3 separate regions of the Homo sapiens genome follow, and all the other regions are linked to region 1. Evidence: fine-mapped expression QTL. A gene starts in region 1. Each other region holds a variant in brackets. All regions are shown on one strand. Distances are from middle to middle. Region 1 holds the start of ISL2 (ISL LIM homeobox 2). Region 2 holds the start of MIR3713 (microRNA 3713). Region 3 overlaps ETFA (electron transfer flavoprotein subunit alpha).

Evidence for each region. PIP is the estimated chance that this variant, and not a neighbour inherited with it, causes the effect.
Region 2: its variant is the best candidate, but not a certain one, in a credible set for the expression of ISL2 in whole blood (INTERVAL, PIP 0.51).
Region 3: its variant is the best candidate, but not a certain one, in a credible set for the expression of ISL2 in whole blood (INTERVAL, PIP 0.53).

Annotation. Positions count from the first base shown.
Region 1 is chr15:76,335,633-76,338,395 of GRCh38, forward strand. It overlaps ISL2 (ISL LIM homeobox 2), which reads left to right and starts at 1,141. Exons shown (of 6, transcript NM_145805.3): 1 at 1,141-1,309; 2 at 2,146-2,335; 3 at 2,620-2,763. The coding sequence starts at 1,252. RefSeq lists enhancers at 876-1,170, 982-1,481, 1,175-1,224, 1,650-2,461.
Region 2 is chr15:76,584,953-76,587,715 of GRCh38, forward strand. All of the region lies in intron 22 of SCAPER (S-phase cyclin A associated protein in the ER), which reads right to left. MIR3713 (microRNA 3713) reads left to right here and starts at 1,695; the gene lies at 1,695-1,739. The variant T/C (reference allele first, on the strand shown) is at 1,655.
Region 3 is chr15:76,226,007-76,228,769 of GRCh38, forward strand. All of the region lies in intron 10 of ETFA (electron transfer flavoprotein subunit alpha), which reads right to left. Among named protein-coding and RNA genes, the nearest start is that of ETFA, 84 kb to the right of the region's middle. The variant A/G (reference allele first, on the strand shown) is at 1,134.

The DNA.
Region 1 (2,763 bases):
GCCTGGACTGTGCTCAGAGCTCTCAGATTTTCTCAGGACCAACGAGCCGCCGCCTCGCAGATACCACTGTAAATTACCCAGCGCCTTACGTTCGTTTCTGATTATTTGCATTGCAGTGGGTTTGTTAATGAAGGACAAGAGTTTAGAAAAATCTTTTATTTTGGAAGTTGGACACGCAATCGACCCCAGCAGTGTTCCTAAAAGGAGCTATGCCATTTGGATGGGGGAAAAATGAGGGGGCGGGGAAGTCCATGTTACATTTAAAACAACAACAGCAACAAATTAAAAGCAAAACAAAACAACAAAAAAAAGGAAGTGGAGCAGGAGGAGGAGGTGGTGGTGGAGGAGAGGGAGGAGGGGCAGCAGCAGCGGCAGCAGCAGCAAGGATGGAGTCAGGACCCGTCCCAGTCCCGGGTGAGCGCTTTTGGATCTGGGTTCTGGCTCAACCCACGTAATGCCCCAATCTAAAGTTTTCTACGTGTGTGTGGATAGGAAAGTCTAAATAGAGTTTATCAGAACCCAGGTGGTCATTCTCTACACTCTCTCTAGCTTGGACCCGAAGAACAAAGGCACATGAGAGGAGAAAGGTGACCAGCTGGACGATGACGGTCACGTCCAAACGGATCCCCCTTGTCCTCGGCTCTCTCGTCCTGAGAGTGGGTTTAATTTTTTTTTTTTTAATTTATATAAGAAGGGAGCTCTTAAAGGAGAGCCATCTCCACCCTCAGGTATCCATCACCCAGCTCCAGCGCGCCTGGGAAAACCGCCCCGAAAGTCCAAGAGGAAGCTCAGAGTTGTAACGGCCGCGGAGCCAGCTCGGCGGTGACGCAAGGTCCAGTCCAGATTGCCAGGCCCGGGGCATGAGAGAGGATCCTTGTAGGTTTCGGAGGTGGGGGGGCTGCACTCCATTGTTCACTCCGGGCCAATCAGGGTTGGCCCACTTCCTCCCAGCCAATCTCCCTTCACCCCCAGCCTCCAACCCAACCCACCCCGCCCATCAGCCCCTGGATCCCCATCACCTCCCCCGCATCCCCGGCAGTTCTGGGGAAGCTTCGTGACGCCACAGGTCCCGCCCCCAGCTCCGGCCCGGGGCTAGTGCGTGTTGACGTCATGCTGCGTGCGGGCCGGTGCGGAATCGCTCCTTCAACTCCGCGGGGCAGTAGGAGTTAGTTAGCAAAGAGCCGAGGCCGGGCGCGCGACCCTCGTCCTTCTGCCCCTGGCCGCACACTTTGCGCACATCTCTTTTTCTGCATGGTGGATATTATTTTTCATTATCCTTTTCTGGGTGCTATGGGTGATCATTCCAAGAGTAAGTATTTCTGTGTGTGTGTGGGGTGGGGTGTGTGTGTATGCTTAATATGCAAAATTTCTAATGCAGAAAAATGTTTAGTGGATTCTACAAGTGGCTTCTATTTGTCAGAATAGTTTAGGAGAGGAAAAACGAATGCATGTCTCCTGCAGGACTGCTTATCTTTGGGAATCCTGTTGTTTTATTTTATAAGTAAACACTATTTCTCAAGCCGGCTAGGATGACTTCGGGCTGCGAAATCTGCTTCTGTTTTGCGCAAAGGCAATTAGGTTTGATTTAGGGATGTGGGTTTTTTTTTTTTTGGTTGTTGTTTGTTTGCCTTTCGGTTTTTCAAAGCTAGGAAGCTTTCTTTCGCTTGCTCTGGGATATTTAAACTAAGAAATGTCTGAGAGGATGAGCGGGGACTGCCGAAAGACGATGTGTCTGTGTTGGGATAGGAGGCAGCCGCTGTGAGTGGGAGTGTGTGAGCGGAAATGCCAGGACAGCACCGTTAGGTGTTGATATCCAGGCGTCCGCAGTGCCTGTGTATTTACTCTCTTCTTAGTTTCGTGTTTGCGTTTAGTTTCAAGACACGTCGACAAAACGACTGTCATTAATGAATGTAATAACGAAATATTTGGGGTGGGGGACAGAAGAAACCTTCAGCAATCCACAAGATACTGGTTTTTCGTTTCCAATGCCCTGGACCTTTAGAGAGCTCATCATCTTTCCTTATGGTCGCAAGTCTTGAAAGAAAGAGCAAGAGAGCGAGCGGGTTGGGTTGGGGCTGGAGTAGCCGAGGCCGGCCTGGGTCCGGGCAGTCAGGCCTGACGCGGCCCCGCGCCCTTCCCCGGCAGAGAAGCCCGGGACGGCCATGTGCGTGGGCTGCGGGAGTCAGATCCACGACCAGTTTATCCTGCGGGTGTCGCCCGACCTCGAGTGGCACGCGGCCTGCCTCAAGTGTGCCGAGTGCAGCCAGTACCTGGACGAGACGTGCACGTGCTTCGTGAGAGACGGGAAGACCTACTGCAAGCGGGACTATGTCAGGTGAGGCCGGCGGGAACGCGGGCTGGGCCACCGCGCGCAGGGGCCGGGGCCGGGACTGGGGATGGCGGCCTGCCCGCGCGCCCCGGCCCTGCCCAGGGAGAAGGCCATCCGCATCCCGCACGGGTGCCGCAGCGCTCCCCCGGGCCCGGGAATGCCCGCAGGCGGGTCACCGCAGTCTCCTGGTGGCCACAAAGTGTCCTGGGCGCGCGCCGGAGCCGTAGCAGCCAGGGAGATGAGGGCGGCCGCAGGCCCAGCGCTGACACCGCCGCACCTTGGGCCCGCAGGCTGTTCGGCATCAAGTGCGCCAAGTGCCAGGTGGGCTTCAGCAGCAGCGACCTGGTGATGAGGGCGCGGGACAGCGTGTACCACATCGAGTGCTTCCGCTGCTCCGTGTGCAGCCGCCAGCTGCTGCCTGGGGACGAGTTCTC
Region 2 (2,763 bases), 250 kb after region 1:
ACAACAAATGCCACTCAAAAAGGCACTGGTGAACTTCAGTTTAAGCCTCAGCTATTTACATGAAGCTTACTTTGATAAGTCAAAGAACAGAAATAGAAACTCTAAAATCAAAAGTACCTATACTTGAATTCTGGCTCCAGCACACACCATGTGTATAAACCCTGGGGAGGTTATTTAACTTCTCTGAATCTCAGTTTCTTCATCTTAAAAGTCAGGATAATATATATTTCTTTTCAGAGCTTTGGGAGGTTAGAAATGATTACTATAATAATCCTGACACCACACACTAAAGTAGACATTCAATAAATGGTCGACTATTATTACTGTTCACTGATAGTATGTCTCAATCTAACAAATGGAAAAAGAGAATATTAAAAATAAAAAAAAAAGTTGAGTAATGGCAGCATACTTCTTTTACCTTCCAATCAAATATGGGCTAGAGTCACATCCAATTAAAGTTACTGACCTTATGTGGAAGATTATTGGCAGTGAACTTCACTGTGTGATAGGTAAGTAGCCACTTCAGCTTTTGGCTAATGTCTGCATACCATGTAACTAAATATGCAGCCATAGCAACAGATATATATGAATCTAGCACTATTCTTAACAAGAATGCTGACATTTGACTGAAAATCAGCAGTACTGAGGGAGGCACAAGGACCATTTTAATTCACAGAATACAAGAGGCTTGTATTTCACCCTGAGGTAAATCAATTCTGAACCTATCCTTCAAGAAAGAATGCCAAATCAAGGGGATGCTTTGGTAATTTGAGCTACACCCCTGTCTCATTCCCTGCCTTCACAGAAGTACAACAAATAAAATAGCCCCTGTAAAGAAAAAAGCACTAGATTTTAATTCATACTATAAATAATTATAGAATGTCAGAGAAGTCAAGCTCTGAGAGCTATATTTTCCTCACAGTGCAAAAACAGGAGCTGCTTAGAGAGTGTAGTTTTTAACAACAGAAAGTTTTATTTGGATTCCTTCTGGCAGATAATTTTTCTAGCATGAAAAGAAGAAGTGAAGGCATTGTATCTCCCAACCTAGGAATATGAGAAGTATCTGTCAGGTAAATGGTTTTGTGAATAATGCTGTAAGATCAATATTTTCTTCTTAAAACTGGAACAAATTTCAGCAACTCTAAGCTCAAGTCTGTCATTGGTAAATATGAAATGTAAAAGTATCTCTCCCAGAATTCCTAACTTTTATCATAGTTAAGTTTGCATGGGGTGGTGGGGTGGTCCACTAGGATCATTTAGAAGATTTGTAAAAGTGTAAAAAAAGATACTTGGTCCATTTAGGAACTAAGATTGTTCTTTAGCATAATGGATAGGAAGACATAAATTAATTAACCTTTCATATCCTCTATTTGGAAGGTACATGGTCTAAATTTAGAGCTATTTTGAGACATTCATATCTGGAATTAATTAAATAAATTTAGGGCTTTATTTAGACATTCAGATCAGGAATTAGCCATTTCCCCAAGAAGCTCTTGTTTCTTTTACTGAGAAAAGATATTTCAAACCCCAAATCAGTGAGCACTAGAGATGCTCTTTGCTACTGAGTTGGGCATTCTTTTCATGCCTCTTCAATGAACAGAGCTAGAAAATAAATAAATGAATGTATATACATATGCATACATATATATGTGTG[T/C]ATAAATGTGTGTGTGTATATTACATATACAGTTATCCTTGGTATCCGTTTGGGGATGGTTTCACTATCCCCAGATGGATACCAAAATCAGATGCTCAAGTCTACTAAATATCAGGGATATTGGTCTCTTCATCAGGGATATTTGTCTGTAGTTTTCTTTTTTTTTTATGTTCTTTCCTGGTTTTGGTATTAGGGTGATACTGGCTTCATAGAATGATTTAGGGAGGATTCCCTCTTTCTCTATCTCGTGGAATAGTGTCAGTAGAATTGGTACCAATTCTTCTTTGAATGCCTGATAGAATTCAGCTGTGAAACTGTCTGGTCCTGGATTTTTTTTTGTTGTTGTTGATAATTTTTAAATTATCATTAAATCTCACTGCTTGTTATTGGTCTGTTCAGGCTTCCTAATTCTTCCTGATTTAAGCTAGGAGGGTTGTATCTTTTCAGAAATTTATCCATCTCCTCTAGGTTTTCTAGTTTATGAACGTAAAGGTGTTCATAGTACCCTTGAATGATCTTTTGTATTTCTGTGGTGTCAGTTGTAATATCTCCCGTTTTATAATTGAGCTTATTTGGATCTTCCCAATCAATAGAATGGTCTGTTGATTTTATTTATCTTTTCAAAGAATCAGCTTTTTGTTTCATTTATCTGTTGTATTTATTTTTTGGTTTCTATTTCATTTAGTTCTGCTCTGATCTTGGTTATTTCTTTTCTTCTGCTGGGTTTGGGTTTGGTTTGTTCTTGTTTCTCTAGTTCATTGAGGTGTGATCTTAGATTGTCTATTTGTGCTCTTTCAGACTTTTTGATGAAGGCATTTAAGACTATGAACAACTTTCCTCTTTGCTGTATCCCAGAGATTTTGATAGGCTGTGTCACTGTTATTGTTCAGTTCAAAGAATATTTAAATTTCCATCTTGATTTCATTGTTGACCCAATGATCATTCAGGAGCAGGTTATTTAATTTCCATGTATTTGCATGGTTTTGAAAATTCCTTTTGGAGTTGATATCCAATTTTATTCCACTGTGGTCTGACAGAGTACATGATATAATTTCAGTTTTCTTAAATTTATTGAGACTTGTTTTGTGGCCTATCATATGGTCTACATT
Region 3 (2,763 bases), 110 kb before region 1:
AATATATTAATATTCTTAAAATGTCTACCAAATAAGATTTGAGGCATCTGTGTCAACACTGTAAATTTATTAGAAATTTCCAGGTTGGAATGTAATAAAATTCTCTCTTACCCACATCTAGCCCATCTCAGTATTAAAGAGTTTAAAATCATTATTTTTTAAAAGTTCTTCTTTTGACTTACAAAAAAAATATTTGATTTTAGGTGAAAAAGTAACAAATCTATACCCAAATCCACAGCCTTTGTAGTGCAAATTATTTTGTCCTTCATTTATTATTTTAAAATTATTATTCTGGAGGACAGGCACAGTGGCTCATACCTGTAATCCCAGCACTTTGGGAGGCCAAGACGGGTGAATCACCTGAGGTCAGGAGTTCGAGACTAGCCTGGCCAACAGGGTAAAACCTGTCTCTACTAAAAATACAAACATTAGCCAGGCATGGTGGCATGTGCCTGTAATCCCAACTACTTGGGAGACTGAGGCAGGAGACTCACTTGAACCTGGGAGGCAGAGGTTGCAGTGAGCAGAGATCACGCCACTGCACTCCAGCAGTGAGACTCTGTCTCAACAAAAATAAAAATAAATAAATAGGCCGGGCACGGTGGCTCACGCCTGTAATCCCAGCACTTTGAGAGGCCGAGGTGGGCAGATCACAAGGTCAGGAGATCAAGACCATCCTGGCTAACACGGTGAAACCCCGTCTCTACTAAAAAACACAAAAAATTAGCCGGGCGTGGTGGCGGGCATCTGTAGTCCAAGCTACTCGGGAGGCTGAGGCAGGAGAATGGCGTGAACCCAGGAGGCGGAGGTTGCAGTGAGCCGAGATCGCGCCACTGCATTCCAGCCTGGGCGACAGAGTGAGACTCCGTCTCAAAAATAAATAAATAAATAAAATAAAATACAATAGAATAAAATAAAACAATTATTCTGGGATATTCTAACAATATGAAAGCTAAAGTATCTTGTCAGCCTGTTAGTAAGGGACGTTAAACAGCTTTAAGTCCTTATGTACATAGCAAATAGATTAATAAAAGAAGCAAATTACTTATATCTCTTATAAAAGCTGTCAAACATTTCTCTTATTTGCTATAAAAATATTCTTAAATGCAGGCCAGGCATGGTAACTCATACCT[A/G]TAATCCCAGCACTTTGGGAGGTGGAAGTGGGAGGATCACTTCAGCCCAGGCGTTCAAGACCAGCCTGCGCAACACAGGGAGACCCCATCTCTACAATAAAAAATAAAAGCTTATGCCTGTAATCCCAGCACTTTGAGAGGCTGAGGCAGGCGGATCACTTGAGGTCAGGAGTTCGAGACCAGCCTGGCCAATATGGTGAAACCCCACCTCTACTAAACACACAAAAATTAGCCAGGTGTGGTGGTGCGCACCTGTACTCCCAGCTGTTTGGGAGGCTCAGACAGGAGAATCGCTCAACTCTGGGAGGTGGAGGTTGCAGTGAGCCAAGATTGTGCACCGTATGTTAGCATGGGTGACAGAGTGAGACTCTGTCTCAAAAAAAAAAAAAGGAAAAGCTATCATTCAAATCATTCTTTTATTAATATCAGATAGTTTATCAGTACAAATAGTTTGGTATTCCCCACAGATGCTTCTAACACCACTGCAGTTAGACTCTAATGTAGTATTATTTTAATAGATTGTGGACTAAAAATAATTCAAATCTCTAGAAGTAAAATTAAGTTTCTACCTACCTGGCATTGTATGTTGTGAAAACAGCTGGTATTAAAAAATACATTAAGTATTTTGATGTAGCCTGACTTAAAATACAGGCTACAGGATATCCAACATCTGTGTATTTCCCTTAGAGGGGTTCCTCAGAGAGATGTGCAGAAGATGCCAGAATGTCTAAGATTGGAACATGGTATAGTCCAGGTAACTGCTAATCCAGAGAAACATGCTACACACATTAAGATGCATAGTCAGAGACAATAAACAAGTTTCAAACGTGAGCCTCAAATCCAAAGGCACAAGAACAAACATTCTGAATTGCAGGTGTTGATTTGCATTGGCGTGTTTCTCTTTTGGGAATGTGTAACCTGCTTCACGGCGATAAGCAGAGATTTGTTTAGTTATTGATGGTAAATTATTCTTCTAGAGGCCACTTAGTCAGACATCTGGGAGTTTAATCATCCGAAAGCTTTTTCATTATACTATATAACAATTGTTATTATCATTATTACTTTGAGACAGGGTCTCATTGTGTTGCTCAGGCTGGAGTGCAGTGGTACAATCAGCTCACAGAAGCCTTGATCTCCTGGGCTCAAGTGATCCTCCCACCTCAGCCTCCTGAGTAGCTGGGACCACAGGGGTGTACCACCATGCTCAGATAATTCTTTCATTTTTTGGAGAGATGGGGTTCTCACTGTGTTGCCCAGGCCACTCTCCAACTCCTGGACTCAAGTGATCCTCCTGCCTTGGCCTCCCAAAGCGCTGGGATTACAGTGCCTTGGGATTACAGTGCCACTATGCCTGCCTTAAAAGTTATTTTTAAAGAGAGAGCATATAACTGTGGGCAAGGAACCACTACAGTATTTAACAAAAAAGATGTGGGGCTGGTTATTGTTCTTCAGATTATTAAAATAATATTCCTAAATAATCAATTGTAAAGAACTATGATAAAGTCTTGCTTGTATCCAAAGCTCTCTCAATAGCTCCTCACAAGCTCAAGTTCTTCCTCCTTACTAAGCTTTGAAATGCATAGATTGTATTCAACCATATTATTATTATTACTTTTTTTTTTTTTTTTTT